Homo sapiens: one gene and its partner. Changing the gene in region 2 together with the main gene of any one other region gives a genetic interaction. Each region holds a gene or a part of one and is shown on either strand. Other genes may lie near its edges. The genes, in order: IL21R and LCK.

The links.
Region 1: changes in LCK (region 2) and IL21R together harm fitness more than expected from each alone (negative genetic interaction), as found in Homo sapiens cells (one study listed by BioGRID).

What each region holds. Positions count from the first base shown.
Region 1 is NC_000016.10:27,426,682-27,442,616, reverse strand, and holds part of IL21R (interleukin-21 receptor isoform 1 precursor), read right to left. Parts: intron 15,347-15,935; exon of another isoform or gene 15,256-15,346; intron 12,562-15,255; coding exon of another isoform or gene 12,546-12,561; coding exon 12,497-12,545; intron 8,271-12,496; coding exon 8,168-8,270; intron 5,130-8,167; coding exon 4,930-5,129; intron 1-4,929. UniProt on the Homo sapiens protein: This is a receptor for interleukin-21.
Region 2 is NC_000001.11:32,254,251-32,270,185, reverse strand, and holds part of LCK (tyrosine-protein kinase Lck), read right to left. Parts: intron 1-15,935. UniProt on the Homo sapiens protein: Non-receptor tyrosine-protein kinase that plays an essential role in the selection and maturation of developing T-cells in the thymus and in the function of mature T-cells. Plays a key role in T-cell antigen receptor (TCR)-linked signal transduction pathways.

The DNA of each region.
Region 1 (15,935 bases), on a different chromosome or scaffold from region 2:
GCCAAGGCAGGTGGGTCACGAGGTCAGGAGATCGAGACCATCCTGGCTAACACGGTGAAACCCCATCTTTACTAAAAATACAAAAATTAGCCGGGCGTGGTGGCGGGCGCCTGTAGTCCCATCTACTCGGGAGGCTGAGGCAGGAGAATGGCGTGAACCCGGGAGGCAGAGCTTGGAGTGAGCCAAGATTGCGCCACTGCACTCCAGCCCGGGCGACAGAGCGAGACTCCATCTCAAAAACGAACAAAAATAAATAAATAAAAGAGTTAAAAGTGAATGGCCCCAGCAGCACAGAGTGGTCAGCTTTTCTAAGTTTTCTAGGGAAACACACACGCACATGCCTACACACACGCATACACAAACACATGTGCACATGCACACCCACACACATGCATGCCCACACATGCACACCCAAACGCATGCCTACACATGCAACACACATGCACACGCACAGCATGCACACACACAAATGCACACGCACACACATGAAATCTGAAACCCTGCTTTCTATGCACTGAAGGGCAAGTTTCAATATGAGGTGCAGAATGGGAAACGGGAGACCCCTGGAATTATCATGTGAAATCTCCAAGGGTTTTTTCCCCCTAGAGACAGGATCTCACTGTGTTGCCCAGGCTGGAGTGCAGTGGTGCGATCATAGCTCACTAGCAGCCTCAACCTCCTGGGCTCAAGCCATCCTCCCACTTCAGCCTCCCAAGTAGCTGAGACTACAGGTGGATGCGACCACACTTGGCTAATTATTTGTCTGTTTTGTAGAAATGGGGTCTCACTATCTTTGCCCAGGCTGGTCTCAAACTCCTGGCCTCAAGTGATGCTCCCACCTCAGCCTCCCAAAATCCTGGGATTGCAAGAACAAGCCACTGCACCTGGCCTATATTAAGTTTTAAAGTTAGCAACCCATCCAAAAATGTTCTCAGCAACGTGCTGGCAAATCCATTCATTTTCCATTTCTGTTCTAAATGATGGTATCATTTTCTTTCAACCCCAGCTACTTCAAGCAGTTGATGACTCTTCTTAGCATGAATGCTAATGGTGAGGGCTGCCATTTACACAGAGCCTGCCTGGCTGCCCTGCTCTGGGCAGTTTGACACCCCACAGTGGCCCTGGGAGGCCAATCTGATGGTCCTCATCTTTCAGCGTCTCCTGGCAAGTGCAAGAGCCGAGCTCTGAGCCATAACAGCAAGCTTTCATGGGCGGCCTCCAGGTGAAGGTCAAAGCCGGCATTCTGTTTTTGCTCCATTCGAAGGACATTTCATGAACTTGAGCAGAACACAATATGTTAAGGGCCTTAAATTCCTCTCTTGTAAAATGGGCTCAGTTCCTATATCATGGGGCTTCAAGTTCAAAGGGATGAAGCTATTTAGCAGAAGGCAGTAACTTCAGAGGAACTGAGTGACAAGTGTCTATTAGTGTCAGAGAGGAGTTGCAGGCCTCTGCCCTCACCTTCTCCACTTTTTCTTTTTTTGTTCTCCTTCCTTCCTTCCTTTCTCCCTCCTTCCCTCCCTCCCTCCCTTTCTTTTTTCTCTTCTTTCTTTTTTTTTTTTTTTTTTTTGAGACAGAATCTCTGTCACCCAGGCTGGAGTGCAGTGGCGTGATCTCAGCTCACTGCAGTCTCCACCTCCCAAGCCCAAGCGATTACACGGCCTCAGCCTCCCAAGTAGCTGGGACCATAGGTGCGCACCACCATGACTGGCTAATTTTTGTATTTTTAGTAGAGAAGTAGTTTCCCCATGTTGGCCAGACTGGTCTTGATCTTCTGACCTCAAGTGATCCACCCACCTCAACCTCCCAAAGTGCTGGGACTACAGGTGTGAGCCACCACACCCAGCCACCTTCTTCACTTTCAATCTGCCACCATCTAACACTCTGCACCTCTCACCCTGTGATTTTGTTTACTATGTGCCTCCCTCACTGGGCTCTTAGCTCCTTGGGGCAGAGGTTTTGTCCTCCAGGTTCAGTCTGTGCCCACAGCTCCTAGAACACAGCCTGGGGCACAGTAGGCCCTCAATAAATATTTGGCAAATTAGGCTGGGCAAGGTGGCTCATGCCAAAAATCTCAGCACTTTGGGAGGCTGAGGTGGGAGGATTGCTTGAGGCCAGGTGTTCAAGACCAGCCTGGACAACACAGCAAGATCCCAGCTCTACAAAAAATTTAAAAATTAGCCAGGATGGTGATGTGCACCTGTAGTCCCAACCACTCAGGAGGCCGAAGTGGGAGGATCGCTTGAGCCCAGGAGTTCCAGGCTGCAATGAGCTATGGTTGTGCCACTGCACCCCAGGCTGGAGGACAAAGCTACACCCTGGCGCGCGCTTGCTCGCTCTCTCTCTCTCTCTCTCTCTCTCTCTCTCTATATATATATATATATATATATATATTTGTCAGATTAACTAATGAACCTTGCAAGGCCTCCAGAAAGGAGCTCTAAGGCTGCCTGTGATCCTGAAACCCGCACTGAGGGCTCCCACCACGCCCCGAGGTGACAGAGGTGCACATTTTACAGAATGCCATGGTGAACACTGGGTTGTTGCTGTTGCTGTTCCAGTAATGGGATGTTTTTGACTGAAATCGTTTCTAACCCCTCTTTTGTCTTCCCCGGGGCAGGTGGAGGCCGGCTCTCGGCTTCCCTGTGTGGCTGGGTGAGGATGAGTCCCAGAAGACACCAGGGTACTGAGAACTGCCCCGTGGGTACTCGGGAGATGTTTGCAGAGCCTGGGGGTCGTGAAGAGGGGCTGCTCAGCCCAGCGAGGCCCAGGGCCCAGGAGGAGGAAGGGACCCTCGGCGGGAGGTGGTTAGAAAATCACTTCCTGCCCCAGCTGGGACCAGGCTAGCTGCAGATCCTGGCAGGGAGGGAGGGAATGCCAGAGAGAAATGCTTGGATTCACGCTGCAAGACAAGTGGCAAGGAGGGTCCCCTTGTGAGTCTGTGCATGTGTGAGTGTGTGCATGTGTGCCCGTGAGTAATGTGTGTGTCTGTGCATGAGTGTACACGTGTGTGAGAATGCATGTGTGAGTGTGTGCATATGTGTGCCCGTGTGTGATGTGAGAGTGTATGAGTATGTGTATATGTGCGTGTGTGCACACGTGTGAGAAAGTGTATATGTGTGTGCATGTGTGAGTCTACACGTGTGTGAGAATGCATGTGTGAGTGTGTGCGTGTGTGTGCCCATGTATGAGTGATGTGAGAGTATATGTGTGAGTGTGTGTGTATTGTGTACGTGTGTGTGTGTGTGTGTGTGTATGTATGTGTGAGTGTGTATGAGAGTGAGAGAGAGCAAGAGAGAGAGGCAGTGTGGGCCTCTGTGTCCATGCCATGCAGGCTGGGGCTGGGGAGACATCTGTGAGTTTGAGGGCGCATCTATGAGTCTGTGTGTGCGTGAGTCTGTGACCCTGGGAATTTGCGTGAGTGTGCATGTGTCTGGGAGTGTGTGAAGCTTCACTCTCACGCTCTGTGGTGTGACATCCACTCAGCAAAGAGGTGCAAACCTGGACCCCCAGAGTGTGAATCACAGACACCTCTTATACCCCAGCCCCTCTGCTGGGAATCTAGCGGCAGAAACTCCCGAGCTCATGGGCGGGGCCTTCCTGAGGGCAGGCTCCCTTTGCAGCCTGTGTTTGCCTCTGGGGCCGCTTTGGGTACACACATACACACACACACACACACACACACACCATGCCAAAGCCACCTCCCAGGCCCTTCCATGCCCTGCCTAGTTCTGTTTTGTTTTGTTTGAGACGGAGTCTCACTCTGACGCCCAGGCTGGAGTGCGGTGGCATGATCTTGGCTCATTGCAACCTCTGTCTCCCAGGTTCAAACAATTCTCCTGCCTCAGCCTCCCGAGTAGCCGGGATTACGGGCGTGTGCCACCACGCCCGGCAAATTTTTTTGTATTTTTAGTAGAGATGGGGTTTCACCATGTTGCCCAGGCTGGTCTCGAACACCTGACCTCAAACGATCCACCTGCCTCAGCTTCCCAAAGTGCTGGGATTAGAGGCGTGAGCCACAGTGCCTGGCCCCTGCCCTGGTTCTTGTTTTGTGTTTTGAGATGAGGTCTCGCTATATTGCCCAGGTTGGTCTTAAAGCCCCAGGTTCAAGCAATCCTCCTGCCTCAGCCTTCCAAAGTGTTGGAATTACAGGCATGAGCCACCTCGCCCTGCCACCTGCCCTAATTCTGAACTCACAGATAAAACTGCTCCCACCAACCAGGCCCTCCTGCCCCTGGGACCCCCCTCTACCTCCAGCCTGGAGGGAAATTCCAGGCCTCCCTGGAGCTTATGAAGGGGAAAAAACCCAAGAGGGTTTTTTTTTTCTGTAACTCAGTGTCGTCCATTCGCCTCATTATGGGGTCAGGATCCCAGAAAGTCAGGGTTAAAAGGACATTTGCTCTACAAATAGGGAAGCTGTCCCAGAGGTAGGTATGCCTCATCCATGGTCACACAGATGGGCAGAGCTGAGCCGGAACACGAACCCAGAAGTCCCGGGTCCCAGCCTAGCTCCTTCAATACCTCTCAAACCTATTATCAACCTTTCACACTTTAGTAAAAAATAGCGCAACTCAAAACAGAACTCTAAGGTGTAGTGAGGACATAGGCCAGGTCAGATCTGATGGAAGGAGGAGAGCTGGCCCAGAGGGCAGGGAGTAGGGGACCCAGCCCCTACCTATAATCCTAGCACTTTGGGAGGCCAAGGCAAGTGGATCGCTGGAGCCCAGGAGTTCGAGACTGGCCTGGGCAACATGGCAAGATCCCCGTCTCTACTAAAAATACAAAAATTAGCTGGGTGTAGTGGTGTACACCTGTTGTCCCAGCTACACGGGAGGCTGAGGTGGGAGGATCACCTGAGCCCAGAGAGGTCAGGGCTGCGGTGAGCTAAGATTGAGTGCCACCCTAAGCCTGGGGTCCCAGGATACTCACTGCTCTCAGCCAGGAGAAAGCTGCCACACTCCTGGGAGTAGTTGCCAGACTGGTCTGTGATGTTGACACTGAAAATGTCGTCGGCCATGAAGTGGAATACATCCATGTGGCAGGTGTAGGTGGCATGCGTGGCATTGTGGGCCGACCTGTGGAGGCTGCAGGAGGTGGCCTCGTCCTTCAGCTCTTCATACTGGTCTTGCCTTCAAGGACAAAGCAGCCGGTCATGGCTGGAAGCCAGGGGCAGGGGGGATGGTGGTGGGCTCAGTGCTCAGGGCCAGGGCAGAAGCCCAGACTCTCAGGGCTGGGAGGGATTTGAGGCAGGGCTGGGGGGTGGTCACCTGGTCCAACCAACCTTTTCCCAGGGAAGGTATCACCTCCCCTACAGCATCCTCAATGAATTGTGTCCGGGCTCAGCTTGCACACCTCCCAGGGGCCAGGAACTCACTACCTCATTTAGGGCAGCAGCTCTCAATTTTGGAAATTTGGGCCATTCTTGCTTGGACTAAGCCTAAATCTGTCCCTGTTGGTCCCAACAACCAGATGGCTGTCCTGCAGGAAGGGCGCTAGGCATTTTGGGTTTCCTTCTCTCCTTTCTGTCCAACATCCATTTTTTTGAGACAGGGTCTCACTCTGGCCCCAGGCTGGAGTATAGTAGTGTGATCATGGCTTACTGCAGCCTCGACCTTCCCAGGCTCAGCTGATCCTCCCACCTCAGCCTCCTCAGTACCTGGGACTACATGCATGCACCACCATGCCCAGCTAACTTTTTGTATTTTTTGTAGAGATGGGGTCCCACCATGTTGCTTAGGCTGGTCTCAAACTCCTGGGCTCAAGTGATCTGCCAGCCTTGGCCTCCCAAAGTGCTGGGATTACAGGACTGAGCCACCTCGCCCAGTCCCCAAATCCACTGAATATCTAATAATAGCCTGTGCTGAGGGCCAGGAAAAGAGCTAAATGAACCTCATCTCCTCCTCTGGGTGGACTTCTGGGAAAGTTGGTGGGATGGGATTAGGGAAAATGCTGTGGCTTTTTAACTCCCACTGGACAAAAATGATGGGTTTTGAAGTATGTATAGTAGTTTACCGGATATTAATTTCCCTACCTAGATGTTCAGGATCTGAACATGACCACTCTCTAGGCCCAGTAGGGATGTGTGGACTGAGTTCTCTGCCAAATTTGCTGGAATACAAGTTCCTGCTGAATAAATGCTCTCCAAGCCTCCCAGCCTGAACTTGCTCCTTATTCCCCCTCACCCTGCCTCACTCCACTCCAGCCACACTGACCTCCTCCCTATTCCTCAAACGCACCAGCTCTTCTCCCACAGGGCCTTTGCACTGGCAGTGCCCTCTGCCCAGCTCCCTGGCTTCCTCCTTCTCACTAGCAGTTGTGGTCCCTTTACCTGAGGTCCAGTGTTCTGTCCTTGATATAGCACCCAGTATTATTAGAAAGTATCCTGTTTGGGGCAGAACACGGTGGCTTATGCCTGTAATCCCAACACTTTGGGAGGCTGGCCATGCGGCAGACCGGCCATCCCGGGGTCTCAAAACCATGGGCGACCTGTGTGGGCGAGAGAGTGGTCTTTGAAGCTGGTGGATAGACCAACCCTGCGGGCTCCTGACTTTTCAAGTCCTGTGAGCCCTGAGTGGTTGTCTGAAAGGCGGGTACAGTGGGCGGATCACTTGAGGCCAGGAGTTCGAGACCAGGTGGGCTAACATGACAAAACCCTGTCTCTACTTAAAATACAAAAATTAGCCAGGCATGGTGGTGCACACCTGGATGCAATCCCAGATACTTGGGAGGTTGAGGCAGGAGAATTGCTTGAACCCAGGAGGTGGAGGTTGCAGTGAGCCGAGATCATGCCACCGCACTCCAGCCTGGGCAACAGAGTGAGACTCCGTCTCCAAAAAAAAGAAAGAAAGAAAGTGTCCTGTTTGGGCCTGGCATGGTGGCTCACACCTGTAATCCCAGCACTTTGGGAGGCTGAGGTGGGCAGATTGCTTGAGCCCAGGAGTTTGAATCCAGCCTGGGTAACATGGCAAAACCCTGTCTTTACAAAAACTACAAAAATTATCCAGGTATGGTGATGCATGCCTGTAGTCCCAGCTACTCAGGAGGCTTAGGTGGAGGGATTGCTTGAGCCCAGGAGGTCAAGGCTACAGTGAGTTCTGATCCCACCACTGCACTCCAGCCTGGGCAACAGAGCAAGACCCTGTCTCAAAAAAATAAAATAAAATAAAATAAAATAAAATAAAAAAGAGAAAGCACCTTGTTGGTTGTTTTGTGTGTCTGTCTCCCCCAGCCTCCGCCCCACCGTGGTACGTCAGTTCCAAGGCATCTGGGGCCTGGTCAGTCTTGCTCTGCTGAATCCCCAGTGCCTGCAACAGTGTCTGGCAGGAACTTAATACATGTTTTGTTTTGTTTTGTTTTGTTTTTGAGTTGGGATCTTGCTTTTTTGCCCAGGCTGGAGTGCAGTGGCGTGATCATAGCTCACTGCAGCCTCGACCTCCTGAGCTTGGTCCCCCTGCCTTAGACTCTCAAGTAGCTGGGATTACAGGATTGTGCCACCACGCCCGACTGATTTATTTTTTGTAGAGACAGGGTTTTGTGATGTTGCCCAGGCTGGTCTCAAACTCCTGGGCTCAAGTGATCCTCCTTCCTTGGCCTCCCAAAGTGCTGGGGTTAGAAACATGAGCCACTGCACCTGGCCTATAAATGGTTTTGAATGAATGAATGAGCTGATGGATAACAGAAGCTCTTCTTTATCCTGAGCTGCATAGGGTCTAAAAGGGACCCATGGACTTTGGAGTTGGGCGGTCTGAATTTGAATCCCAGCTCCAGCATTCACTGGCTGTGTGACCTTAGGCAAGTTGCTTAACCTCTCTGAACCTCAATGTCCTCATCTGTAAAATGGGAGTAATCATTGTGAGGGTTGGGGGTGACCATTCATGGGAAGCGTGTAGTTGGGGGCCTGGTACCTAAGTGCTTGAAAAATCATGCGGGAAACCAGCCATCCCGGGGTCTCAAAACCATGGCCGACCTGTGTGGGTGAGAGAGTGGCCTTTGAAGCTGGTGGATAGACCAACCCTGCGGGCTCCTGACTTTTCAAGTCCTGTGAGCCCTGAGTGGTTGTCTGAAAGGCGGACACAGTGGTCCTCAGTGCACAGTGTCCTCCTGGGGGAATCACTGAGCAGGCACCCTGAATTGCATCCCCGGGGACTGGTGAGGCCCGGCTACTTACCAGGTAAGGGTGAGCGTGCTGGGGTGGAGGTTCCACATTTCCAGGATGCAGATGACCGTCTGGAGGTAATCGGTGTAGCAGACGAGGTCGGGGCAGCCCCAGCCTGGAGGGTCAGTGGGGAGAGAGGCCTTGGTGGGGGGTGGCTTGGGACTGCAGAGCTTCCTCTCCATCCCCTCGAGGGCTGGAGGAAGAATGGGTGCAGGGGTCCCCAGGCCGGGACAAATATGAGGACTCAGGAGCTGCTTAGATGTAGGCCTGGCACCCAGGGGGCCTCACCACCTGGAAATTCCTTGTTTGAGCACCAATGTTTCAAGGCTGGCTATGAAGACAGGATGCATGTGATGGCAAATAATATAAAACTAGCTGGTCCCCAGCTCAGCACCCTCCTCCAGAGCCCTGCGCCCGGCCACCAGGTCTGTGTCCCTCCTGGCCAAGCTCCCACTCAGAATGGCAATATCCTAAATGCCCCAGATGTGGTAGGAACCCAGCCAGAGCACACGCACACACCCCAAGAGGGTCAGGACCTCATAGAGTCAAGGACAGCTATGCTGAAAATGTCCCAAAACCCTGACAAGGAAGAGGACTCGGCTCTACAGAAGTTGGATCCACAGGACACCCACTCTCGGAGATTCAGGAAGTGCTTCAAGGAGTAGGAAACCGTGAGAGAATTAAAAAGCCCTCGGACACTTTTGCATAAAGGTCTGCGTGATCCTGCGGCCAAAAATGCCACCGCCACCAAGAAGTCTTCTAGGTATTGCCCTATGAGGCAATTTTGTTGGAAGATTTAACACCTTTCCATCCTGCTCCCCAAACATTAATTGTTTCGCTGTGTTCTAAAACAGGGGTGCAATCATCATCTACATTTTGTTAAATGTGGACAAAATCAATGGAATAATTTGTAGCTTTGTTTTGTATATTCGAGTGCCAATTCCACTATTTTTTGCTGCTATTTACTAGAAACTTGTACCGCTCACCTCTTTTTGAGATAGGATCTCTTGCTCTGTTGCCCAGGCTGGAATGCAGTGGTGCGATCTCAGCTCACTGCAGCCTCCACCTCCTGGGCTCAAGCAGTCCTCCCACTTCAACTTCCTGAGTAGCTGAGACTACAGTTGTGCACCACCATGCCTGGATAATTTTTGTGTTTTTGTAGAGACAGGGTTTCACCATGTTGCCCAGGCTGGTCTCAATCTCCTGAGCTCAAGCGATCCACCTGCCTCAGCCTCCCAAAGTGCTGGGATTGTAAGAATGAGCCATCGTGCCTGACCTTGTTCCCCTTTTTAAGTAGGTTCATTTTTGGTGGCTTTTTCCTATTTTCCCTGGACTAATGAAGACCCCTGAGGTGGTGGTGGTAGATTCCCTTCCTGGGTCTCACTCTAGGACAGAACCTATATGCGGAGCCAAGAATACTGTGTCTGGAAATATCCTTTAGTTCATTGTAGAGATGAGAACACTGAGGCTCCAAGACTAGACCATGCCTCTTGTCTCTCTTGGTCTGGGCTGCTGAGACACTCACCCAGGGAAGGAAATACCTAGTCTGTGCTAGTTTTTCATAGCCGCACACATGACAGATATTGCTAATGGATCACAGCACTCCCTCCCCTAGGTGTGACCTCGGAATGCTTCTCAACTTCTCTCGAGGCAGTGGCTACCAAGGGATCTGAGTCATGGAAGTAAATCTTGCTCTAGGAGGGGGCTTTCCTCAGGGAGACACACAGAACTTGTCGGTGGAGTGAAAAGGAGCTAGTTCCAGCACTTGGTGGAGAAAACAGGACTGATTTTGGCAAAACCTCAACACAGAGCCTCTAAGTAGCTGTGTCATCTCTGAGTTCGTATCCTCGTGGTTCTTTCTCAGAGCTCTGGGAATTTGGAGAGGAGCTACCATTCCTAGCCAGGCTCAAAGCTACCAAGGGACAGGGTTTGTCTCCAAACTTGGGGAGGCAACGGCAGCCCCTGAGTGGCAGGGAGGTGGCACCAGGGATGAGAGGGTGGGAAAATGCCCTGTCAGTACCCCAGCCACAGGGCAGAGAGCCCCAGGGCCATCCCATGTCTGGGGTTATGAAAGCGTGCAGGAGGCAGTGAGAGGTGCACAAAGTAGCTCTGTGACTGCAAACATGTGACTCAAAACTGCTTCTCCTCCCCATGTGTAAGCCGGAGACACTGCTTGCCCTAGAGGCTGTTGAGGTGTTGAGATGAGATCATGCCTGTGCCTGCATGCTGCCCGCACATGGCTATCACTCCACAGATAGCAGCACAGCATGGTGAAGGCCGTGCTACGGTTTGACGTCTGTGTCTCCCCAGAAACTCAGTTGCCAATGTGATCATATTAAAAGGTGGGGACTCTAGGAGATGATTAAGTCATGGGGGCAGAGCCCCCCTGAATGAATTATTGATGCTATAAGAGGGCTGGACGAACCCAACATTCAGACCCTTTTTGCCCTTCTGCCATGTGAGGATGCAGCGTGTGTCCCCTCTGGGGGTGGTGCAGCGTTCAATGTGGCATCTTAAAGGCAAAGATGGGGGCTGGGTGCGGTAATCCCAGCACTTTTGGGAGGCCGAGGCGGGTGGATCATTTGAGGTCAGGAGTTCAAGACCATCCTGGCCAACATGGTGAAACCCCAACTCTACTAAAAATACGAAAATTAGCCATGGCATGTGCCTGTTATCCCAGCTGCTCGGGAGGCTGAGGCATGAGAATTGCTTGAACCTGGGAGGCAGAGGTTGCAGTGAGCCAAGATTGCACCATTGCACTCCAGCCTGTGTGAGAAAGCAAGGCTCAGTCTCAAAAAAAAAAAGCAAAGATGGGCCCCTCACCGGAATCAAAGCTACTGCTGGTGCCTTGATCTTGGACTTCCCAGCCTCCAGAACTGCGAGCAGTAAATGTCTATTATTTATAAATTACCCAGTCTCACGTATTCAGTTACAGCAGCACAGACAGACTAAGACAGACCCCAAGAGCAAACTGATCCCAGCTCTGCCTCTTCCGGGTAGTGTGGCCATGCACCTGTCTCTTAGCCTCTCTGAGCCTCCTCAGCCAAAAAACTGGGCGTCATTACAACATGCGCCTTGTGGGGCTGTTGGGACAGTGGAATGGGATGACGCTCCGAGCTTTGCATGCAGCCAGGGCTTGTTATCTGCACCCGCCAGATGTGGAGCCATGGTGGGTGACCCAAAGGCTTTTTAGAACCAAGATGAGGATGCTTGCCACTCAGAAAGGGAAAATCAAAGCTTGACATCTGTTTCCTGAAGGAGCTATTTGAGGTCCTGGGTCTTCTGGTAAAAACCAGAGAAAAATGCCCATGAGTCAGCAGAGCAGCTGTTGAGTTCCTCCCCTGCCCCTAGGCCGGCCTCCACACAAGTCTGTGCTGGATCCCGCCTCCTCATGGCCCCCTCCTCCAGGAAGCCCTCCAGGATCTCTTAGTCCTAGGCAGTGCCCTTTCAGTCGGACTCCTGGTCTTCCCAGTTCTGCTTTCTAACGTCACCCCCTCTAACCACAACATCTGGTCCTCTGGGGGCTGCCTACCAAGGTTCAGTCTCCTTTTGGCTCTTCCTCCTGTCCCCAGCCCAGGGACCACCAGTGCCTGCTAAGAATCTAGCGATTTTTTTGTTTGTTTATTGTTGTTGTTGTTGCTGTTGTTTTGAGACAGGGTCTCGCTCTGTTGCCCAGGCTGGAGTACAGTTGTCACCTTGACTCACTGTAACCTCCACCTCCCAGGCTCAAGCAATCCTCCCGCCTCAGCCCCACAAAAAGCTGAGACTACAAGCATGCGCTCCTATGCCTGGCTAATTTTTTTTCTTTTGTAGAGACAGGGCTTCACCATGTTGCCCAGGCTGGTCTTGAGATCCTGAGCTCAAGCGACCTACCCTCCTCAGCCTCCCAAAGGGCTGGGATTCCAGTAGGAGCCACCGCACCCGGTGCAGCAATTGTTGAAAAACATTTCCAAGGAGAGTCATTACATAAGGAGAAACTGAGGTTAGATGGAAGGCAGAACTTCCTCACTCAGAGAGTTGGGAGCCAGCCAAGGCAGAGGTCAGGGGAAATGAAGGACGAAGCCTTTCATCCCCCCAGTGACACCCGAAGACACAAGCCTGTGGGCTGGGCCACCTGAGACTCATGTCTACCGCTTCTGTTTCATGGAGCCCTTTGGTGGATGGATTCTGATTAGTGGAGAGCCGGCTACTGGACTCGTGTCAGCCTCAAGGGCATGGATGTCATCTTTTCTGAATCTGTGGACTCTAGCCGTGTTTTTGAGCCCAGAAAGCCAGCCCGGCCCTGGCTCAGCTCTGTGATGGGGGCCCTCCCCACCCGCAGACCACGGGGCAGCCACTTACCTCCCTGGAGCAGCAGCAGGAGCAAGGGGGCGGCCCAGCCACGCGGCATGCTGACTCCCACGGGCCTGCAAGAGACGTACAGTGGAGGGTGAGCCAGGCGGGCTCAGGGCTCCCCCGGCCTCCCCCTCATCCTGTCTCTTCCCAGGCAGACTTGCCCCTGATTCTTGGAACTGTCTTAAGAAAAATGCAAGATCCCGAGGGGCCTGTGGATGACCCCAAGAACTCCCACCTCTTAGAAATGGCAGATTCACCCCAAGAATCCCTTCTCCCACCTTCTTCCTGCCCCCGCCCCATCACGTCACAAATGCAAAGTGAATTTGTTTTATTATTTTATTTTAATATTTTTAGAGATGGGGTCATGTTCTGTTGCCCAGGCTGGAGTGCAATGGCGCAATCACGGCTCACTGCAGCCTCAACCTCCTGGGCTCAAGCGATCCTCCTGCATCAGCCTCCCGAGTAGCTGGGACCAAAGGCACGTGCCACCACGCCTGGCTAATTTTTAAAACATTTTTGTAGAGACGGCATCTTGCTATGTTGCCCAGGCTGGTCTCAAACTCCTGGGATCACATGATCCTCCTACCTCGGCCTCTCAAAGTGCTGGGATGACAGGCATGAGTCACCACGCCCAGCACAAGGTGAATTTAAAGAGGGAGGAGACTGCTGACTATTTTGCCCTTGCTGAGCCTATTGATGTAGCATTGTGTGTGAAATTAAACTTGTGTATTTATCTATCTAACAAAGAAAGAGGGAGGGAAAAAGAGAGGAAGGGAGAGAGAAAAGGAGAAAAAACTAGTTTGGAAAGGGGGATCTGCTGAGGAGCAATTTTGGATCTTCCTTCCTATAAACATCCATGTTGTAAAAAAAAGCCAGTAAATTGGCTTTTTTATGTTTATTTTTTAGACAAAGTCTCACTCTATCGCCCAGGCTGGAGTGCAGTGGCCCGATCTTGGCTCACTGCAACCTCTACCTCCCAGGTTCAAGCGATTCTCCTGCCTCAGCTTCCCAAGTAGCTGGGAATACAGGTGGCCGCCACCACGCCTGGCTAATTTTTGTATTTTTAGTAGAGACAGGGTTTTGCCATGTGGACTAGGCTGGTCTCGAACTCCTGGCCACAGGTGATCCACCCACCTCAGCCTCTCAAAGTGCTGGAATTACAGGCATGAGCCACTGCACCCAGCCATCAATAAATTGGCTTCTTACTGAATAATAAATCCAAAGTTAACCCACAAAGTTAACCACTGCTGAATACTTAAGATAAGGTTAGCCCAATAATGAGGCTCCTTACTCCATCACAAAGCCCAGATTAGCCCACTCGGGAGCATGCTAGGAAATCCAGGCCTGACCAAACAGAGACAACCTGACCTCCTAATTTGGGCCAGGATGGAGAAGGAACCTCTTTGGGGAGCAGAGTGAGTTTATCCAGAAAGAGTGCCCTCTACTGTCTTGGGCAGAGGAATGCCCCACCAGTCTGGCGATGCCAGGCTTCTCCTGGGACTTGTCTGTTTCACCCACCAGCTCTGTGTCTGTTTGAGGAAGTGCCAGCCAGAGGGCAGTGGTCCACCTGCCCAGACTCAGGAGCCCCTCCCAGACCAGCCCCTATAGACAAGAATGGAGCTAAAGCTAAACCTAAGAGGGATGCCCCATGCAGGACCCAAGTCACAGGCATGGCTTTCTCCAGACGCCATCCCTGACTCCACAAGGGGAAGATCCTCCTCCTCTGTGCCGGGGTTCCCAAAGATCCTACTCTGGCCCCATCCATAGTTCCCTCTGACCTCCCTCACAGAGCCATCAAAGAACCCTGGGGCAGGGCACAGGCTGGGGGGCCAGGAAGGTTCAGATGACCAGCTGTGTGGCTCCGGGCCAGTCCCTTGCCCTCTCTGAGCCTTGTAAAGTGGAAACAGCAAGGCCTGCTTCCAGGCTTGTGAGAATTCAAGGAGGTGATTTGCATAAAACCCTGCAGATGGCCCCCATCACATAAACACTCAAACAACAGCTGTAATTGATGGAGAAGGTAGAGCCTCAGAAACAGAGGGGGTCTCAGAATGATCTAGCCAAGAGTTGCCAAAATATCTCATATCCAAAATTTTGGCCATATTTGTATATTGTGTGCACTGTTGTTTATTTTAATACATATTTTAATATATTTTCTATAGATAAGCACACTTAAAAATTTAACTCCAGCATCATCCTAAGCAATAACATCACTACTCAAATAAAATAATGTTGAGGTAGATGCAGTTTCAACCTGCTTTTAGGAATATGAATCCTGTGTGATTCCAACCCCTGCAGAGGTCCTGTTATCACACTTTGAAGATGTGGCCTCTGATCGCAGGAGGGGGAGTCTGTGTCTGCCCCCTCACTATTCTGTCCACATCCATCACCCCAGCCACGGTGCGAGTCCTGACATAGCTCTGTCCCCGTCACTCCCTGATGGTTTTATCTTGACCACAGCACAGCAAAAAGTGCAAACTCCTTTGCCCAGATTCAATATTCCTCATCTCCAGCTTGACCAACATAGCAAGACCTTGTCTCTACCAAAAATAAAAATAGAAGTAAAAATAAGTTAGCCGGGTGCTGTGTGCCTGTGGTCCCAGCTATTCGGGAGACTGAGGAAGGAGGATCACTTGAGTGCCGGAGGTCCAGGCTGCAGTGAGCCATGATTGCACTATTGCACTCCAGCCTGAATGAAAGAGTGAGACCCTGTCTTTAAAAAAACAAACAGACAAACAAAAAACTCCTCATCCCTCCTAATTTCTTACCTCTGCCTACATCACAGAGCCCTAGGGATGTGGAGGGGGTACCTGCTGCTTCTGCCTGCCCGGCGTCTCTTCCCAAAGAGCTCCTCTATCTGAGCTGCCTCTAGTGGTTTGCCTGAGGCTGACTCCACCCCATGCTCCACAAAGTGGGCTCCTGACCCAGGCTTGGCCAATCAAAACACCCCATCTGTCTGACCACAGTGATTGCATCAGGGATGGATGTCAACCCAGGCAAGGCCAGTGAAAGCAGTCCTGAGATTTTTTTTCTAGAACTCTAGAAAACTGACACTTTTTTTGGTATCTTCTCAGAGCTTGTAGCCATCTTTGTCACCTCTTAGAGACAGCCTCCTTGAAAATGACAGCCATACTGAGAAATACAGGTCAGGAGTCCCCATGGCATCATGGGAGGTCCTGGATCCAGCCATATCTGATGTCCACCCTGTGGATTTCTCATTCCCATGAGCCAAAAACCACCTATGTTGCTTAATCATGTTGAATTCTATTTCTGTCACTTGCCACCAAAGATCCCTGACACAGTGGAGTTGAGAAAAGGGCTCAGAATTTGAAGCCAGAAGATCTTGAAGCAAATAGTAGCTCTTCTCTGGCTCTTTTATTCTCTGAACTCAGTTACCATCTCTGAAATGGGGACAATAGTGCTCACTGCACCTGGCAGTGAAGAAGAG
Region 2 (15,935 bases):
ATCCTGCCACTGCCACCGCACTGTTCACTCCAACTTGGGTGACAGAGACTCTGTCTAAAAAGAAAAAACAAAAGAGAGACAGAGAGAGAGAATTCATGCTGGGTCTAAGTGGAAGCAGGGAGCAGTGGAAGTTTCTCATTAGCAAAACTCAGAAGACTGTCCCCATAGTTAGAGACCTAAGTTCAAATAGCAATTTTGACACTTACTGTGTGACTTTGCTGAAATCATTCCTCCTAAGCCTCACTTTTCCTCTTCTGTCAAATGGGGCTCTTCATCCATTTCTCATAAGCTCACATGAATGTTAGCTTAGTTTAGTGCTTAGAAACACTTTCACCAGTGCACAATTCTGTCCTACCAACTCCTGCTTTGGAAGGTGGAAGAATGGGACTGGGTAATTAATCTCCTTTGCTTTAGACTCCTGTTTCTTTCTTTTTTCTTTTTTTAATAGAGTCTCGGCTGGGCGCGGTGGCTCATGCCTGTAATCCCAGCACTTTGGGAGGCTGAGGAGGGCAAATCACATGGTCAGGAGTTCGAGACAAGCCTGGCCAACATGGTGAAACCCTGTCTCTACTAAAAATACAAAAATTAGCTGGGCGTGGTGGTGCGCGCCTGTAATCCCAGCTTCTTGGGAGGCTGAGGCAGGAGAATTGCTTGAACCATGGAGGTGGAGGTTGCAGTGAGCTGAGACCACGCCATTGCACTCTAGCCTAGGTGACAGAGCAAGATACCATCTCAAAAGAAAAAAAAACAGACAGAATCTCACTCTGTCACCTAGGCTGGAGTTCAGTGGTGTGAACTTGGCTCACTGGAACCTCCACCTCCCAGGTTCAAGTGATTCTCCTGCCTCAGCCCCCTGACTAGCTAGGACTACAGGCATGTGTCACCACGCCCAGCTAATTTTTGTAATTTTAGTAGAGATGGGGGTTTCACCATGTTGGCCAGGGTGGTCTTGAACTCCTGACCTCAAGTGATCCACCCACCTCAGCCTCCCAAAGTGCTGGGATTACAGGCGTGAACCACCATGCCCAGCCTAGACTCCTGTTTCTTTTCTCTCTTTCCTTTTTTTTTTTTTTTTAGACTTGCTCTGTTGCCCAGGCTGGAGTGCAGTGGTGTGATCTGGGCTCACTGCAAGCTCTGTCTCTCCTCCCTCAGCCTCCCTAAGCAGGTGGGACTACAGGCGTGCACCACCACGCCTGGCTAATTTTTGTATTTTGTGTTTTGTATTTTTAGTAGAGACAGAGTTTTGCCACGTTGGCCAGGCTGGTCTCGAACTCCTGACCTCAGCCTCCCAAAGTGCTGGGATTACAGGCAATGAGCCACTGTGCCCAGCCCTAGACTCCTGTTTCTTTTCTTTTCTTTTTTTTTTTTTTTTGAGACGGAGTTTTGCTCTTGTTGCCCAAGCTGGAGTGCAATGGCACGATCTCGGCCCACCGCAACCTCTGCCTCCCAGGTTCAAGCGATTCTCCTACCTCAGTCTCCCAAGTAGCTGGGATTACAGGCATGTGCCACCACGCCCGGCTAATTTTGTATATTTATTTATTTACTTATTTATTTATTTACTTTTATGGGTATCTGGTAAGTATATATGTTTATGGGGTACATGATATATTTTGATAGAGGCATACAATGTGTAATAATCACAAAAGGGATAAATGAGCTATCCATCACCTCAAGCAAGCCTCTTATTATTATTATTATTATAAAAACTAGCTGGGCATGGTGGTGCATGCCTATAATCCCAGGTGCTTGGGAGGCTGAGGCAGGAGGATCACTTGAGCCCAGGAGTTCAAGGCCACAGTGAGCTACGATTGCACCACTGCACTCCAGCCTGGGTGACAGAACAAGACCCCTTGTCTAAAGTAAATAAATAAATGAATAATAATAATAAATTTTTTTAAGTTTTGAAAAGAAGCCCAACATACTGCCAGGCATTTGCATTTCTCTTTCTGCATTTGCATTTCTCTCATTACTTTTTTCTTTTTTATTTTTTTTGAGACAGAGTCTCACTCTGTCTCCCAGGCTGGAGTGCAGTGGCGCGATCTCAGCTCACTGCAACCTCCGCCTCCTGGGTTCAAGCGATTCTCCTGCCTCAGCCTCCCTAGTAGCTGGGACTACAGGCGCGTGCCGCCACACCTGGCTGATTTTTTATATTTTTAGTAGAGATGGGGTTTCATCGTGTTTGCCAGGATGGTCTCAATCTCCTCACCTTGTGATCCTCCTGCCTCGGCCTCCCAAAGTGCTGGGATTACAGGCGTGAGCCACTGTGCCCGGCCTTATTATTATTATTTTTTGAGACAGAGTTTCGCTCTTGTTGCCCAGGCTGGAGTGCAATGGTGTGATCTCGGCTCACTGCAATATCCACCTCCCAGGTTCAAGTGATTCTCCTGCCTCAGCCTCCCAAGTAACTGGGATTACAGGCGTGTGCCACCACACCCGGCTAATTCTGTATTTTTTAAGAGACTGGATTTCTCCATGTTGGTCAGGCTGGTCTCAATCTCTCGACCTCAGGTGATCTGCCCGCCTCGGCCTCTCAAAGTGCTGGGATTACAGGCATGAGCCACCATGCCCGGCCTAATTTTGTATTTTTAGTAGAGACAGGGTTTCACCATGTTGGTCTGGCTGGTCTTGAACTCCTGACTTCAGGTGATCTGCCCTCCTCGACCTCCCAAAGTGCTGGGACTACAGACGTGAGCCACCGTGCCCAGCTCGACTCCTGTTTCTTAAACTGAGATACTCAGCCTCCCATGGGTACCGGAAGTCATGTCATGGTGTGCATTTTTCCAGAGCATGAGTGTTTCCTGACCTTATTCATGTAAGTTAAACAAACATGACCTATTATGGAGGAAAATGCAAAATGTGCATGGAATTTTAAATCAAATCAAGAAACTTTCCAGGAAAAGGGTACGTATTCACTCTTTCCCCTACTGTTAGGAGTCCTGGGGGGAGGTGGACATTTGGGAAATCCTGCTAGACCAGAGTGCACCCATCTGTGACTGCAAATGACTTTTTGACTATTATAGCCTGAGAGTAATTAGCAACAAGAGCCCCCAGTAAAGGACTAACAGCAACCTGGAACTGGTCTCAGATAAGCTGAGCTGTTTTGTGAGGTAGTGAGCATCCTGTTGTTTGTGATAGTCGTATGAGCCTTAGGAAACCACAAGTTGGTTGTGTTGTAAAGAGAATACCAACATCAGATGGAATGTGGACTTAGACCAGTAAGGTCCCTGCCAGGCTTGACATTCTTGGAGCCTTTAGAAAAAGGCAAGAGAAAGATTGTAGAAGTTTGAGGTTAAGAAGAGGGAATGTATAGGAGGAAGGGAGAGATGGGAAAGAAGAAGAAGGAGGAGAAAGAAAGGGAGGGGGAAGGGGAGGGGGAGGGGGAGGAGGGGGAAGAGGAGGGGGAGGAGGGGGAAGGGGAGGGGGAGGGGAGGAGGGGGAAGAGGAGGGGGAGGAGGGGGAAGGGGAGGGGGAGGAGGGGGAAGGGGATGGGGAGGAGGGGGAAGGGGAGGGGGAGGAGAGGGATGAGGAGGGGGAGGAGGAAGAGGAGGAGGAGGTGAAGGAGGAGAGGAGGTGGTGGTGGCGGAGGAGGAGGAGGAGGAAGAAAGGGCGTAGTAGCTCAGGCCTATAATCTCAGCCCTTTTGGAGGCTGAGGCAGGAGGATCTCTCTTTTTTTTTTTTTTTTTTGAGACAGAGTCTCGCTCTGTTGCCCAGGCTGGAGTGCAGTGGCGTGATCACGACTCATTCACTGCAAGCTCTGCCTCCTGGGTTCACGCCCTTCTCCTGCCTCAGCCTCCCGAGTAGCTGGAACTACCGGCGCCCGCCACTGTGCCCGGCTATTTTTTTTTTTTTGTATTTTTAGTAGAGACGGGGTTTCACCATGTTAGCCAGGATGGTCTTGATCTCCTGACCTTGTGATTTGCCCGCCTCAGCCTCCCAAAGTTCTGGGATCACAGGCGTGAGCCACCGTGCCCGGCCAGGAGGATCTCTTGAGCCCAGGAATTAGAGACCAGTGCCTGGGTAACACAGTGAGACCTTATCTCTACAAAAAAAATCTGAAAATTAGCAGGGCATGGTGGTGCGCCCCTGTAGTCCTAGCTACTCAGGAGGCTGAGTGGGGAGGATCACTTGAGCCTGGGAGGTTGAGGCGGCAGTGAGCCGTGAACACGCCACTGCACTCCAGCCTGGATAACAGAGCAAGAGAGCAACACCCTGTCTCAAAACAAGGCCGGGTGCTGTAGCTCATGTCTGTAATCCCTTTGGGAAACCAAGGCAGGAGAATTGCCAAGAGTTTCAGACCAGCCTGGGCAACGTAGCAAGACTCAGTCTCTATATAAAGGAAAAAAAGAAGAGGAAGAAGAAGGAGGAGGAGAAGGAGAAGAGATAAACTATGGTGCAACAGTGAGAAAAGGCCAGTAGAAGAAGCAGAAGGAATCTAGGTTGGAGATCATGGGGCTGGAAGCTGGTACCTGGTCCAGGCTGGGGTCAGGTGGGGAGGGAAAAGGAATCACAAGGCCTTGGGCTAGGATCCAGGAAAGCATGCAAGGCAGGTCCTAGATTCTGGACTGAATCTGGGCCAGAAAATCCCCGACTTAAGACTGGGCAAAAAGTGAGAAAAAGTCAGCCTATGTTAAATTAAGATCAGAGGAACTCTAGCTTTGCAGGGTATCTGGCCTCTACTGTTTCCTCTATGGCCCCCCAGCTACAGGTGGCAGTTCCTGCCCTCTATAAGCATGTGAGCTTTGGAGGATAGGGCCTGGCAGCAATCGTAAGTCCATAGGATCTGGCAATGCCAGAAATGTTTGTAGTCAGAGGCTCCCAGCCTGAAGTTTACATGCTCCCAGGAAGTCCCAGGCTAGTGCCGGGGAGGCCTTTAGGTTATTTTAATATTTCAAAAATCTGAAAGGAAATTCCACTATACTTTGTTTCTTGTTTTGACAAATTGTATTATTTATTTCTTCATTGCATACTTAATTAAATCGCTGATTACATTTTTTTTTTTTTTTGAGACAAAGTCTCACTCTGTCACCCAGGCTGGAGTGCAGTGGCGCAATCTTGGCTCACTGCAACCTCCGTGCCTCAGCCTCCCGAGCAGCTGGGATTACAGGCACGTGCCGCCACGCCCAGCTAATCTCTCTATTTTTAGTAGAGATGAGGTTTCACCATGTTGCCCAAGCTGGTCTTGAACTCCTGACCTCAGGTGATCCACCTGCCTCGGCCTCCCAAAGTGCTGAGATTACAAGCGAGAGCCACTGTGCCCAGCCAAATCTTTGATTAAAATGTAAACTTGAGGCCAGGTGCAGTGACTCACACCTGTAATCCCAGCACTTTGGGAGGCTGAGGAGAGAGGATCGATTGAGCCCCGGAGTTTGAGACCAGCCTGGGCAACGTGGTGAGACCCTTTCTCTATTAAAAGAAAAATTTTTTTAACTTGAAAATAAGAAAATTTGCATCTAAATGAGGTAGCTTAGTAGGTAAAAACTTTAAAATCATGAGATCCATGTGGGGAAGAGGGAGTGTAGAACAGGGAATGGTAAAAGACACTTTGTCTTCACAAGAGTTTAGGAAACACAAATACAGTTCATCAGCCTCATTTTAAAACTGGGGAAAAGGAGAGGTTCAGTGATTGTCCCAATAATACACTGAGGGTTCCTGGCAGATGCAAAACTCATATCAAAACCTTACATCCTTTTTTTTTTAGACGAGGTCTCACTACGTTGCCCAGGCTGGTCTCTAACTCCTGGGCTCAAGCGCTTCTCCCACCTCAGCCTCCCAAATAGCTGGGATTGCTGGCATATGCCTGGCTTGGCTCCTACATCCTTTATCAAGATCCTCTCCTCTACTTTTCACTCCCTGGAAAGTCTAAGGGTGGAGGGGGAGGGCTGAGAGGTCTAGGAGAATGTGAGGCAGGAAGGCAGGTCTGACAGGGTAGGGTCCATTTCCCATCAAAAATTTGACCACTGTGCTGTTAACAAAGGCTTTTCTCTTCAAGACAATCCCCCCTCTACCTGGAATGCACGTTTCTGGGTATATATTTACCTGCCTGTTGAATGCAAGTCTGTGCATATGAAAACATATGCAGTGAGCCCTGTGCTTATGGGTGCATATCTGTGGGTTTGCAGGAGTCTGTGTGTGCAGAGGGATATATAACAGAATGAGACTATGAATAGCAGCGACCGTCCCTATGTAATTGTGAAGTCATATAGGCATACATCTGTTTATACAAAATGTGGGTATACCCCATCCTTCCGGTCTTCTTCTTTTTTTTTTTTTAAACAGGGTCTTGCTCTGTCGCACAGGCTGGAGTGCAGTGCAGTGGCACTGTCTCAGCTCACTGCAAACTCCTGCCTCCTGTGCTCAAGGGATCCTCTTACCTCAGCCTCCTGAGTAGTGGGGACTGCAGGCCCATGCCACCAAGCCTGACTAATTTTTGTGTTTTTTGTAATGATGGGGTTTCACCATGTTGGCCAGTCTGGTCTTGAACTCCTGGGCTCAAGTAACCTGCCACCTTGGCCTCCCAAAGTGCTGGGATTACTAACCTGCCACCTTGGCCTCCCAAAGTGCTGGGATTACAGGCATAAGCCACCATGCCCAGCCTTTTATTTTTACTTTTTTGCAGTGACAAGGTTTCACCATGTTGCCCAGGCTGGTCTCAAACTCATGGGCTCAAGCAGTCCTCCCACCTCAGACTCCGAAAGTGTTGGGATGGCAGGCATGGGCCACCATGCCCAGTCTAATTTTTATTTATTTATTTATTTATTTATTTATTTATTTATTTATTTATTTTATTTATTTTGAGACGGAGTCTTCCTCTGTCCCCCAGGCTGGAGTGCAGTGGCACAATCGCAGCTGACTGCAACCTCCACATCCTGGGTTCAAGCAATTTCTCCTGTTTGAGCCTCCCAAGTAGCTGAGATTACAGGCATGCACCACCATGCCCGCTAATTTTTATTATTTTTAGTAGAGACAGGGTTTCACCATGTTGGCCAGGTTGGTCTCGAACTCCCAACCTCAAGTGGCCTGCCCACCTCCGCTTCCCAAAGTGCTGGGATGACAGGCATGAGTCACCAGACCTGGCCTGTGGCCTTTTTATAATCATCACAAAATGTTCTGTGGACCACGGGCAGCCTTAAGTTTGACTGAGAACATTACATGCCCTAGTCAGAGGCAGCCTCGAATCTATGAAATTCTTACTCGTGACCTTGGATTCCTAAATTGGGAGAAAAGAATGTCCTGTTTCATTCACCCCAGAATCTGCCCTCATTGCTGGTTCTGGGAGCCCTGGGGATTCCTTTCATCTGTTTTTTTTTTTTTTTTTTTCTCCCTTCCTCCACTTCTTTCTTTCAGACAATGAGAAATTTATATTAAGCTTTAATTTTGATTTTCTTTTTACTGACCTCATTTATTAACCTGGTTAGATCATGTTGGCTACTCAGCAATCTTTATCAAACTAAGACCAGAAGGAGTCTGGGCATGGTGACTCACGCCTGTAATCCCAGCACTTTGGGAGGCTGAGGCAGTAGGACTCCTTGAGCCCAGGAGTTCGAGAGCAGCCTGACCAACATGGTGAAACCCCGTCTCTACTAAAAATACAAAAATTAGCCAGGTGTACTAGGCGCATGCTTGTAATCCCAGCTACTCAGGAGGCTGAGGCAGGAGAATCGCTTGAACCCAGGAGACAGAGGTTGCAGTGAGCCGAGATCGCGCCATTGCACTCAAGCCTGGGTGACAGAACTAGACTCCATCAAAAAAAAAAAAAAGAAAAGAAAAAGAGATTCTCCTGCCACAGCCTCCCAAGTAGCTGGGATTATAGGCACGCACCACCACACCCAGCTGATTTTTGTATTTTTAGCAGAGATGGGGTTTCACCATGTTGGCCAGGCTGGTCTCAAAATCCAGTCCTCAAGTGATTCACCTGCCTCGGCTTCCCAAAGTGCTGGGATTACAGGTGTGAGCCACGGCACCCGACCATGCTCAGCTATATAATTAGTGGCCGGCGTCCGGCTACCGGGGGCCGTGGCTCACACCTGTAACCCCAGCACTTTGGGAGGCCGAGGCAGGTGAATCACTTGAGGTCTGGATTTTGAGACCAGCCTGGCCAACATGGTGAAACCCCATCTCTACTAAAAATACAAAGATTATCTGGGTGTGGTGGCACGTGACTGTAGTCCCAGCTACTTGAGCTACTTGGGAGGCTGAGGCAGGAGAATCTCTTTTTTTTTTTTTTTTTTTTTTTCTGACAGAGTCTAGTTCTGTTGCCCAGGCTGGAGTGCAATGGTGTGATCTCGGTTCACTGCAACCTCTGCCTCCCAGGTTCAAGCGATTCTCCTGCCTCAGCCTCCGGAGTAGCTGGGATTGGAGGCATGCGCCTAGTATGCCCGGCTAATTTTTGTATTTTTAGTAGAGACGGGGTTTCACCATGTTGGTCAGGCTGGTCTTAAACTCCTGACCTCATGATCTGCCCACCTCGGCCTCCAAAGTGCTGAGATTACAGGTGTAAGCCACCACACCTGGCCCTTTTTTTTTTTTTTTTTTTGAGACAGAGGACAGAGTCTCACTGTGTCGCCCAGGCTAGGGAGCAGTGGCACGATCTCGGCTCACTGCAACCTCCAACTCCCAGGTTCAAGTGATTATCCTGCCTCAGCCTCCCAAGTAGCTGGGATTACAGTCACGTTCCACCAGGCCCAGCTAATTTTTGTATTTTTAGTAGAGACGGGGTTTCACTATGTTGGCTAGGCTGGTCTTGAACTCCTGACTTCGTGATCCGCCCACCTCGGCCTCCCAAAGTGCTGGGATTACAGGCTTGAGCCACCACCATGCCCGGCCAGCAGGAGAATCTCTTGAACTGGGGAAGCGGAGGTTGCAGTGAGTGGACATCACGCCACTGCACTCCAGCCTGGTCCATGGAGTGAGACTCTGTCTCAAAAAAAAAAAAAAAAAAAAAAAAATTAGCCAAGCATGATGGCGTGATGGCATTTGCCTGTAGTCCTAGCTACCCAGGAGGCTGAAGTGGGAGGATCACTGAGCCCAGGAAGTCAAGGCTGCAGTGAGCCGTGATTATACCACTGCACACCAGTCTGGGCGACAGGGGACCCTGTCTCAAAAAAAGAAAAAATTAATTAAATTAAATTAAAAAAAATTTTTAAGTTAACATTTTTTCTCCTCCAACTATAGACCTATTGATTTATTGAACATTTTGTCCAAAATGTGTGCCAGCTTCGTGGCTGAGTTTCTTGGGCCAATGCTTTACATCAAGAACAGGCAGGTGGTCGGATGCAATGGCTCACGCCAGTAATCTCAACATTTTGGAAGGCCAAAGTGGAAGGATCACTCGAGGCCAGGAGTTCAAGACCAACCTGGGCAACATGGTGAGAACTCATCTCTACAAAAAATACAAAAATTAACCAGGTGTGGTGGTGCACGCCTGTAGTCCTAGCTACTCAGGAGGTTAAGGTAGGAGGATCGCTGAGCCCAGGAGGTTGAGGTTGCAGTGAGCCAATATCATACCACTGTACTCTAGCCTGGGGGAAAGAGCAAGAACCTCTCTCAAACAAAACAAAACAAACAAAGCAACACAAAAAACAGCAGACAAGACTATACTTCCTTTAGGGATCATTTCTTTAGTTCAGTTTCTCTGAACATGTAGAGCACAAAAAGTAAAAAAGAAAAAAGAACAAGCAGACTATTCTACTGCAGACCATTGTTGTACTCTGGACCACCTCATGGCAAAATCTGTCAGAAATCATTTAGAATAGCCAGGGCTGGAGGCTCACGCCTGTAATCCTAGGGCCGAGATGGGAAAATCACTTGAGCTCAGAAGTTCAAGACCAGCCTGGGCAACATAGTGAGACTTTGTCTCTGTAAAAATAAAAATAAAAGGCCAGGCGCAGTGGTTCACACCTGTAACCCCAACACTTTGGGAGGCTGAGGTGGGTGGATCATGAGGTCAAGAGATCGAGACCATTCTGGCCAACATGGCGAAACCTCATCTCTACTAAAAATACAAAAAATTAGCTGAACGTGGTGGTGCACACCTGTAGTCCCAGCTACTCGGAAGGCTGAGGCAGGAGAATTGCTTAAACCCGGGACTGCACTCCAGCGTGGCGACAGAGCAAGACTCTGTCTCAAAAATAAAATAAAATAAAATAAAAATAAAAATAAAATTAAAAAAAAATGAATCATTTAAAACATTTTCTTCGCCTTTGCCCCGACCCAGACTTGATTAATGACAAAGCTGCCCATGTTCAATAAAGAGCCTTAGCTATTCATGCCCACATAGAACCCTCATGACAATATCAAGCAATATCAAGAATCAGGGCTAGCAGGCATGGCAAATAATTTCTTTCTTTATTTTATTTTATTTTGAGACAGGGTCTTGCCCTCTTGCTCTCTTGCTCTCTTGTGCCACTGGAGTGCAGTGGCAAAATCACAGCTCACTGAAGCCTCGACCTCCCGGGCTCAAGCAATCCTCCCACCTCAGCCTCCTGAGTAACTGGGACAACAGGCATGTGCCACCACGCCTGGCTATTATTATTATCATTATTATTATTATTATTATTTTTATTTTTTTAGATGAAGTCTCACTCTATCGCCCAGGCTGGAGTGCAGTGGTGCAATCTCGGCTCACTGCAACCTCTGCCTCCCAGGTTCAAGCAATTATCCTACCTCAGCCTCCCGAGGAGCTGGGACTACAGGCGTGTGCCACCACACCTGGCTAATGTTTGTATTTTTAGTAGAGATGGGGTTTCACCATGTTGGCCAGGGTAGTCTAGAACTCTTGGCCTCAAGTGATCTGCCTGCATTGGCCTCCCAAAGTGTGGGATTACAGGTGTGGCATGAGCCACCGCACCCAGCCTCCAGCTATTTTTTTTTTCTTTTTCTTTTTCTTTTTTTTTTTTTACCTGAGAAGCTGTGAATGAGAGGGCCCGGGTAATTTTTGTATTTTTTTAATTTTTGTAGAGACAGGGTTTTGCCATGTTGCTCAGGCTAGTCTCAAACTCCTGAGCTTAAGCAATCCACTGCCTCAGCCCCTTAAAGTGCTGGGATTACAGGCATGGGCTACCGTGCCCCGTCAGTAATTAATTTCTAGTGGGTAAATCAGGGATGTGTCCTGGGCTACCTCCTTTTTCATATTTGTTTAAATACATAATACTTTTTTTTTTTTTGAGATGGTATCTCACTCTGTGGCCCAGACTGGAGTGCAGTGACACAATCATGGCTCACTGCAGCCTCGACCTCCCATAGCTCAGGTGATCCTCCTACCTCAGCCTCCTGAGTAGCTGGCACTATGGGTGGGCAACACCACGCCTGGATAATTTTTGTATTTTTAGTAGGGACAGGGTCTCACCACGTCACACAGGCTGGGTTTTTTTTTTTTTTTTTTTTGAGACGGAGTCTCGCACTGTTGCCCAGGCTGGAGTGCAGTGACGTGATCTCAGCTCACTGCAACCTCCACCTCCCAGGTTCAAGCGATTCTCCTGCCTCAGCCTCCCGAGTAGCTGGGATTACAGGCACCCGCCACCATGCCTAGCTAATTTTTTGTATTTTTAGTAGAGACGTGTTTTTTAGTAGAAACTAATTTTAGTTTCACTATGTTGGTCAGGCTGGTCTCGAACTTCTGATGTTGTGATCCACCTGCCTCCGCCTCCCAAAGTGCTGGGATTACAGGTGTGAGCCACTGCGCCCAGCCTGGTTTTTTTTTTTTTTTTTAAAGAGATGGAGTCTCACATCTCACTCTGTCACCCAGGCTGGAGTAGTACAGCACATGATTGTAGCTCACTGCAACCTGAAACTTCTGGCCTCAAGTAATCCTCCCACCTCAGCCTCCCGAATAGCTGGGATTACAGGCAGGAGCCACTGCACCTGGCTTTAATTCCGCTCTCTCTCTTTTTTTTTTTTTTCCTTTAGAGATGGGATCTCACTCTGTTGCCCAGGCTGGAGTGCGGTGGCATGATCATGGCTCACTGCAGCCTCAACCACCTGGGCTCAAGTGATCCTCCCACCTCAGCCTCCTGAGTAGCTGGGACCACAGGTACACACCACCAAGCCCAGTTAATTTTTTTATTTTTTGTAGAGACGGGGTCTGCCTATGTTCCCCAGGCTGGTCTTGAGCTCCTGGGCTCAAGCAGTCCCCTTGCTTTGGCCTCCCAAAATGCTGTGATTATAGGTGCAAGCCACCACACCTGGCTTAATACCTTTTTTGAATGAACTCTGTAGCCTCTCGACACAGAGAGAACAAAAAAAAAAGCATTATTTTGGATGCAAACAAAATGGATTTATTTTCACAAATTGGGAGTGTCTTGAACATAGAACTGATTCTGCTAGTCAAGTATCGCTATAAATAAGGGATATAGAGCAATTATTCTAATTGGTATTTTAGTAGAAGTCCCCCAACCAGTAACGTGAATATACCTGATAATCCCTTTTACTGAGTCCGCTCCCTTGGGTACTTTGGTGTGCTTTTTGTATCATGGACAGTTTTATTAGGATGGAGCCTTACTTACAGCTTGGCAATCCACACTGCTTTATAAACGTTTCTGGGAGTCTGGCAGCTCTGGAAGCTCAGTTCACCATGTCCATGCCATGGCAACCCAAATTCAATCCAGGTTCTCCCAATCACTTGCTGGCAGAAGGGCACCAGGCGTGGTGGTTCACACCTATAATCCCAGCACTTTGGGAGGCTAAGGTGGGCAGACAGATACGTGAGCCCAGGAGTTTGAGACCAGCCTGGGCAACATGGCAAAACCCCGTCGGTACAAAAAAAATACAAAAATTAGCCGGACTTTGTGTCCCATGCTTGTGGTCCCAGCTACTTGGGAGGCTGAGGTGAGAGGATCACCTGAGATTGGGGAGGTCAAGGCTACAGTTAGCCAAGATTGGGCCACTACGCTCCAGCCTAGGCGACAGAGCAAGACCTTGTCTCAAAAAAACAAAAAAAACAAAAAAAAAAAAAACAAGACTTACTGGCAGAAGGTTGTTGGGCAGCTTACTAAACCTCTGCACTTCCCTCAGTTCCTTCATCAGCAAAATGATGACAAAAATAAGACTTGCATCTAAGGCTGGCTGTGGTGAGCATTATACGTGATATATAGATGATCTCATATAATAAAATGCTTAACATAGTGCTTGCTACATAGACACTGGCCTTAAACATCTTTCAGGCTAAAATGATTGATCATTTTCATTTTCCTTCATGATTTTTGGCACTTCCACGGGCTACCTTTTCACGTTTGATATATGTACCTAAAATGGAAACTTTACTACCATAAATGGAAAACCAGAATCATGAGACATAAATAGAAGTGAAACAACAGCGCACACTAAAATAAACACATAAATTAACATTCGTAAATGGTCATCCATTATCCCCTAAAATCACTTACACACCTGAGTGGTGTACAGGTCATATTTTAGGAAATGCCACACTGCAAGAGAGAACTTTGGGCTTAGGCTGCTGCTTGTGGATTAAAGGAGCTGGCCTATTGACAAAAATGTAATGGGTGAGGTAGGACGATTGCTTGAGACCATACATAGTGTGAGTGCAGCTTGGGCAAAATAGTGAGATCTTATCTCCACACACTTTTTTTTTTTAAGACAGAGTTTTGCTCTTGTTGCCCAGGCTGGAGTGCAATGGCACGATCTCGGTTCACTGCAACCTCCACTTCCCGAGTTCAAGCAATTCTCCTGTCTCAGCCTCCCAAGTAACTGGGATTACAGGCGCCTGCCACCACGCCTGGCTAATTTGTTGTATTTTTAGTAGAGACAGGGTTTCACCATGTTGGCCAGGCTGGTTTCAAACTCCTGACCTCAGATGATGCACCCACCTCACCCTCCCAAAGTGTTGGGAGTTTAGTAGAAACCCCATTTCTACTAAAAATACAAAAGTTAGCCGGGCTTGGTGGCATGTGCCTATAGTCCCAGCTACTTGGGAAGCTGAGGCAGGAGAATTGCTTGAACCCGGAGACAGAGGTTGCAGTGAGCTGAGATAGTGCCACTGCACTCCAGCCTGGGTGACAGAGCAAGACTCCATCTATAAATAACTAAATAAATAAATAAATAAATTGTATTGTTATTATTATGTTTTAATAGAGACGGGGTGTTGCTATGTTGCCCAGGCTAGTCTTGAATGCCTAGTCTCAAGAGATCTTCCTGCCTCAGCCTCCCAAAGTATTGGGATTATAGGCATGAGCCACTGTGCCTGGCCAAGAATTTTTTTATAATTAGCTGGGCATGGTGGTACACATCTGTAGTCCTAGGCTACTCAGGAAGCTGAGGTGGGAGAACCACTCAAGCCCAGGTGTGTGAAGTTACAGTGAGCTATGATCACACCATGTGCCCCAGCCGGGGCAACAGACTGAGACACTGTCTCAAAAAAAAAAAAAAAAAAAATAAATTTAATGGGTACCTCCTATGTGCCAGATTCTGACCTAGAGCTGAGGATGCAGAAGTAAGCAGACAGAGAGCGTCCCATGCATTTGGCCCTGCCCTCTGTGACAGAGGTGGGTGCCCCTCTGGTGGGTCACTTCATTTTCACAGGAGGCTATAAGGCTTGTAGTTAGCTCACTGATCAATAATATCTGTGACTGCCGACAACATGGCCGCACATGACAGCAACACTTGCCAGGAAGTAACATTTCAAAATCACCACCGTTAACCATTTACCAAGCTAACGTTTAGTGAAACAGTTAAAAGGATGAGGTATTTTGTATTGACATGTATTGACACGGAAAGACATCCCGCATACACCATGGCAAGCAAGTTGCAGAACAGAATGCAGAGTATATGCCTATTTGCATTGACATATGTATACAGGGGATTCTTTTAAATAAGCTCTGTGCTAAGCCTTTATTTGCATTATTTCATGTAATTCTCATAATAATCCTATGAAGTGCTATTATTATCCCCATTTTACAGATGCAAAGACTGAGGCCCAAACCAGGTAAAATGATTTGTCTGAGGCCTCATAACAAACAAATGAGCAGTGGAGTTGTGAAGTGAGTCCCGGTCTGCCAGCCTGCAGAGACTAGACTTAACCTCCATGTTTTTCAGCAGCCATACATGGGAAAATCTGGAAGGACACACACCAAATTTTTCACGATGGGCATATCCCAGAAGTGGGATTGGAGGAGGCTGCATTTCTTGTATTTCTTTATATGCCTCTTACTGTTTGAGTTTTAAATTTTATTTTTTTTTTAAATAATTAAATAGAGATGGGGTCTGCCTATGTTGCCCAGGCAGGTCTCAAACTCCTGGGCCCATGTGATCCTCCCATCACGGCCCCCCAAAGTGCTAGGATTACAGGTGCGAGCCACTGTGCCTGGCCTGTTTGAGTGTTTTTAAAACAGCAATGTGCTAATTTTGTAATTAGAAACAAAAACAGCCGGGCGAGGTGGCTCATGCCTGTAATCCCAGCACTTTGGGAGGCTGAGGCAGGCGGATCACCTGAGATCGGGAGTTCAAGATCAGCCTGACCAACATGGAGAAACCCCATCTCTACTAAAAACACAAAATTAGCCGGGCGTGGTGGTCCATGCCTGTAATCCCAGCTACTCGGGAGGCTGAGGCAGCAGAATCACTTGAACCAGGGAGACGGAGGTTGCAGTGAGCCAAGCTCGCACCACTGCACTCCATCCTGGGCAACAAGAGTAAAACTCTGTCTCAAAAAAACAAAAAACAAACAAACCAAAAAAACCCCACAAAACTTAGCCAGACATGGTGGCACACGCCTGTAATCCCAGTTACTGGGGAGGCTAAGGCAGGAGAATCACTGGAACCTGGGAGGTGGAGGTTTACAGACATGCACCACCATGCCTGGCTAATTTTTTGTATTTTTAGTGGAGATGGGGATTCACCATGATGGCCAGGCTGGTTTCGAACTCCTGACCTCAGGTGATCCACCTGCTTTGGCCTCCCAAAGTGCTGGGATTACAGGCGTGAGC